2 separate regions of the Homo sapiens genome follow, and region 2 is linked to region 1. Evidence: fine-mapped expression QTL. Tissue or cell type: lymphoblastoid cells. Region 1 holds a variant in brackets; the other region holds the start of a gene. All regions are shown on one strand. Distances are between the middles of the regions.

Evidence for each region. PIP is the estimated chance that this variant, and not a neighbour inherited with it, causes the effect.
Region 2: MOCS1 starts here. The variant in region 1 is fine-mapped to the expression of MOCS1 in lymphoblastoid cells (GTEx, PIP above 0.99).

The regions. Positions count from the first base shown.
Region 1 is chr6:39,888,125-39,890,886 of GRCh38, reverse strand. It overlaps DAAM2 (dishevelled associated activator of morphogenesis 2), which reads right to left. Exons shown (of 25, transcript NM_001201427.2): 17 at 2,124-2,208. It overlaps DAAM2-AS1 (DAAM2 antisense RNA 1), which reads left to right. Exons shown (of 4, transcript NR_125831.1): 4 at 1,832-2,097. Among named protein-coding and RNA genes, the nearest start is that of DAAM2-AS1, 7.9 kb to the left of the region's middle. RefSeq lists an enhancer at 2,039-2,762. The variant G/A (reference allele first, on the strand shown) is at 1,068.
Region 2 is chr6:39,933,299-39,936,060 of GRCh38, reverse strand. It overlaps MOCS1 (molybdenum cofactor synthesis 1), which reads left to right and starts at 1,599. Exons shown (of 11, transcript NM_001358530.2): 1 at 1,599-1,766. The coding sequence starts at 1,644. It overlaps LOC102723789 (a long non-coding RNA gene), which reads right to left and starts at 1,492. Exons shown (of 6, transcript XR_001744112.1): 1 at 1,418-1,492.

The sequences.
Region 1 (2,762 bases):
TACCTCCCGAGCTCAAGCAGTCCTCTCACTTCAGCCTCCAAAAGTGCTGAGATTATAGGTGGGAGCCACCACGTCTAGCCTAAAGTACACTATTCTTCAATGTACAGCTCAGTGATTTTTCTTTTCTTTTAAACAAACTTGAGGTATAGTCTACATAAAATAAAATGCACCCATTTTAAATGTGCAGTTCAGTGATTTTTGTCAAATCTCCATCCATTGAATCATCATTCAGATTAAGATAGAGAACATTTCCATCCCCCAGGAAAGTTATTTTTCATCACTTCAGTAAGCCATTCAAGTGAATATAGGCTCTCAACTGAATTCTAGGACCTTAGCCAGATTTGCCTGTCCTTGAACTCATGCTGTATGCTCTCTTTTATGTCTGACTTCTCCCCAGCATAATGTCTAAGGTTCATCCATGTCATGGTAGTTTATTTATTGCTGAGTAGGATTCTACTGTATGAATATACCACAGTCTACTTATTCACTTTCCTATTGATGGACAGTTGGGTTGTTCACAGTTCGGGGAATTTATAAATAAAGTTGCTATAAATAGAGTTGGCCCCTGAGTAACACAGGGTTGAACTGTGCAGGACCACTTGTATGTGGATTTTCTTCTGCCTCTGCCATCCCTGAGACAGCAAGACCAACCATTCCTCTTCCTCCTCCTCAGCGTGAAGACAATGAGGATGAAGACCTTTATGATGATCCACCTCCACTCAATGAACAGTGTCTTTTAATGATTTTTTTTCTTTTTTTTTGATGGAGTCTCACTCTGTTGCCCAGGCTGGAGTGCAATGGCACCATCTCACCTCACTGCAACCTCCGCCTCCTGGGTTCAAGTGATTCTCCTGCCTCAGCCTCCCAAGTAGCTGGGACTACAGGCATGCACCATCACACCTGGCTAATTTTTGTATTTTTAGTAAAGATGGGGTCTCACCATACTGGCCAGGCTGGGCTTGAACTCCTGACCTCAAGTAATTTGTCCACCTCAGCCTCCCAAAGTGCTGGGATTACAGGCATGAGCCACTGTGCCCGGACTTCCTTCTAATAATTTTCTTAATAAC[G/A]TTTTCTTTTCTTTAGCTTACTGTGTTATAAAAATACAGCATATAATACATGTAACATAAAAATATGTGTTAATTGGTTGTTTATCTTATCAGTAAGGCTTCTGGTCAACAGTAGGCAATTAGCGGCTAAGTTGTTGGGAAGTCAAAAGTTATATGTGGATTTTTGACTGCATGGAGGGTCAATGCCTCCAGCCCCCACATTATTAAGGGTCAACTTTATTCTTGTGTATTTATTTTAGTCAGTATTTGTACTCATTTCCCTGGAGTTATACCTAAGAGTGGGATTACTAGGCAATAGGGCGGGTATATGTTTAGCTGTAGAGTGTACTTCCAAGTAGTTTTCCAAAATAATTGTGCCAAATGAGAATTCCAATTGCTTCACATCCTCGTCAGCACATGGCATTGTCAGTCTTTTTAATTTTAGCTACTCTAGTGGGTGTGTGGTGCCCCCTTATTGTGGTTGACTGTATTTCTCTGATAACTAATCATATTGAACACCTTTTCATATTCTTATTGTCTATTTGGAAATCCTCTTTCATGAAGCACCCCTTCAAGTCTTCTGCTCATTTTTAAGTTGATTTCATCATTTTCTCATTGATTTGTAGAGTTCTTTGTTCTGAATATGATCTTTGTTATATGTATGTATAGCAAATATCTTCTTCTAAGGTTTGTCTTCTTTTCACTCAGTAACCATGCCCTTGATGAACAGAAGTTCTTAACTGTAATGAAGTCCAATTGATGATGTTTCTTTGTGTGTTTTCTAGGTTTCCCAAAGGATCCAAAAAACTGAGAGGGAAGAGATTTGGGGAAGATGTCACTTTTCCTCATCTGACTTTGCCTTGGAGTCAGATGGGAGAATGACTCCTGGAGAACACTTAGCCTTTTCCAGCTTTCCCCAAGAAAGGCTGGCCCAGGGAGGCTTCTATAAACCTTCTCCCTAACTCTTCCAGCCTGATTTCTCCTTGACCCAAGAATCGCAGCCTCCTGGGGGCTGTTGGGAAGGGGCGTGGCTGCCCGCTGGGTTCAGTTCCCCTTCCTTCCCACGAGGGTCCTCACCTGCTCCAGCATGTCCTTAGCAAGGTCCTCCTGCTCATCCATCTTCAAGATGGCCTGCCGGATCTCCTCGTTAGAAAGCTTCAACCTAAGGCAAAACCCCACCTCAATCCAGGACAGCCCTCAAACCTTCTTCTCCAAAAGGTACCACCTCCGCCTTCCCTCATTCCCTAACAGGACTTGGGAATATATTTAATAGTATTCCCCCCTCACCTCCTCTACAAAGCCTTCTTAGATTAGACTAGTATGATTCAGTCCACAAACTTGATAATGAGCATTTTAGTGTCAAAATAGAGACGTGAGGGTCTCTGTTCTCTTGATAATCCATCAGAGCTGATAGGGGCATTTGGGAGTAAAAGAGATGTCTTCAATGTAGACCAAAGGGACAGGGCAAAGGGTTCCTGATCCTTCTCCTCCTCCTCATGCTTAAAAAATGCACAGCATCTCCACGGGAGGACAGGATTATCGGCAAGCCACTAAGAGGGCAATTTCCTGCTGCCTTCATTCTCAGAACACAGAATCGCTCTCAGTCTTCTGACAGCGCCTCAGCTCCCACACAGCTGTCCCAATCAGTCTTGCTGTCTGGGAGAGGGAGAAGCCACACACCCCCATAGCCCTTCCCTATCCCCTCCACATGCACCC
Region 2 (2,762 bases), 45 kb before region 1:
CCTTGGAGACCCAAGTTCTATAAAAGATGACAGTAAAGCCCAAGTGAAGGGATGATCACATACAACTTGTATGAAGAGGGTGGAATCTAGAGAGGCTCCAAGGAGCTGGTGACATTCTTGGATCAAGTTCATATGTCAGATGGCTTCTTCCCTGAGGTTGAGTCCTCTCTAGAAGGCTCTTCAAGCCTCATACATACAAAAAAAAAAAAAGTTTTTATCCTTCTCTCCCCCATACCCAGTTTTCCTGATAAATCCAGACATATCTAAACTTAGCAGTGGACAGAGCTTGAACAGTCCTCAGTTGGTCTTCAGGCCCCTTGCAAACAGACCTCTGGCATACTTGTCTCATCAGTTTCAAACACACCCCAGATACACTTTCATCCCCTACAATATATTTTCTGAATTTTGAGTATCATTGTGAGAAATTCACATTGAATCTAAGGCTAAAATCATCTCAGCTTTTCTGACAGTCCCACTGCACTTGTAAAAGTCAGTTATATTCAGTTATTTTTTCCTCTCCCACTATTCGGTCAATTCTTCAAGATCAGGAGCTATATTCCCACTTCCTAAGCATGCACTTGGCAGCTGTATGTTCCAGCCGGTGTTTTATTCTTGCAATTCCACAGGGACAGGGTTTTGGATACAACAGGCTGGTTTGAGCATAATTATTCTTAGTACATAAGCTCATTATTGTGTGTGTTATCCAAAATCTTAAAGGACTACAGCACTCTGCTTTTTATAGAGAGGAAGAGGCACACCCCACCATTCCTAACACATACTGAATCTTGACTGAATGACTGTAGAAAGCAGATTGCCCTGGGTTTGAAACCCACTATCAGCTGTGTGACTTCGAGAAAATTACCTGGTCTCTCTAAGCCTCAATGTCCTCAGTTGCAAAAAGGACATTCTATTCATACCAGGATTGTTTTAAATAACATTTAGCATGGTGCTTGGTGTATAAGAAGCATTTCAAAAATGTTGTCCACTCATTCTGTGACTTCTCATATACTCTTGCCTTCTCCACGAAAAAAAAAAAAAAAAAAAAGATTGTTAATATCCTTTTGGGGCACAACTGGAGAAGTGTATCTTGAAAGACCTAACTGACCGTTTTACAACCACAATCTGCACTATGGTGCACTGAGTGATGTGAGTCATGCAAGTGTAGGCTAAATCTTTTTATTTAGAATGTTGATATTTCACGGACTTCTGAAAATTTATTACGATTTTTTGAAATATTACATTAAAAAATTACTTACTTTGATAACCGCAGTTTACCTGGCACCCTCTTAAATTTTGCATCCAAGGCAGTGCCTCATTCGTTTGGCCCTTGTCCTGTCCTGCCTACTGTCACACCACGACCTAAATCTGAGACTAGAGCAGCCAGAAAAACTGGAAGGAAAAGAACCCCGTTCCTTACCTGAGTTTACCCTTCTGCCCTAGAGCGCTACCCCGGCCCAGGAAAGTGGGCACAGGGAGCGTACTACAGCTCCCACAAGGCCACGCGGGACTGCGTCCTCGCCTATTGGCTGCGCGGGTCCCGCCCTCCCCCTGCCCCTCCCCGCCCTTGCTGGGATGACCCCGGGGGCGAGTGCCCGGCCAGTGTGCTCCCGAAGCGGGCTGCGGTTCCGCTCGTATCAGGCTTCATGGCGGCGCGGCCACTGTCCCGGATGCTGCGGCGGCTTCTGAGGTCCAGCGCCCGGAGCTGCAGCTCAGGGGCTCCGGTGACCCAGCCCTGCCCCGGGGAGTCCGCGCGAGCTGCCTCGGAGGTGAGCCCACCCCGCCTGCGTCCACAGCTTCCCGGGGCAGGAGTGGCCCCGGCACACTGCCCTTTTCCCCCAGTAGCTCCCGGCCTATCTGCTTGACCGCTTCTGGGAGGGACCCGTTGGCACTCCTCAGTGGAGCGATGTTCTCCAGATGGACCGCCCGGTCTCACCCGCTAGCCCAGCGGGAGAGGTTCCTGGGAGTCCCGCTTCAGAACCTCCCTGCCCCCCAGCCACGCCACCCCTTCTAGCCCTGAGCTTGGCCAGAAATTCGGGTAAGCAGAGGACTGGGACTTTGGGTCCAGTGAGGTGTCTTAGTACCTTTCAGCCTTGCCTTGCACCCACCCTCTTTCTTAAACATTTTCCCTCCCTATCCCAAGAGCTGAGAGATCAGGTGTCCCTGTGACACCTGCTTCATAGTGCGACTGACTAAACATGTCACCTCGGTGTCACCAACGATGAGTTGTTACTGTAGTCCCAGGGCTCTGTAACCCATCCTTTGCTGACTCTCCTTGTCTTTTTTATTAACCTTGGGAGGGTTCAGCCTTATCCTAGAGCAGAACAGGGCAGGACGTGGCTTCTTCCAGGTGAGAAATTAATTCCTCTGTCTTTAGGGTTTTGGGTAAGATCCCTCAGTCCTTGCCAGCACCCCTCAGAGTGTTTCAAGTCATTAAAAGTTTTAGGTTTTGGTTGTTCTTCTGCTCAGGTGGTTAGGGAATAATTTGGGGGGAAAAGTACCTCTTTTCATTTAGTGAAACCTCTTTTCGGTACCTATCTAGGCGTTTTTTTCCCCGTCTCCCAGAACTAGGCTTCCTGTCCTGGGATTCATAAGATCACTGCTCCCTCCTCCCCTATATTGCTCAATGACTTCCGCCAAATTTGCTTTCCCCAAATCTAAGCCCCTCTGGGATCCTCAGATAAGCAGGCCCATGGTTGGGAAGTGAAGACTTTTTAGTATCCTCAAACTCTGAACATCATTGAGGAAGAGATAGGAAAGCAAAG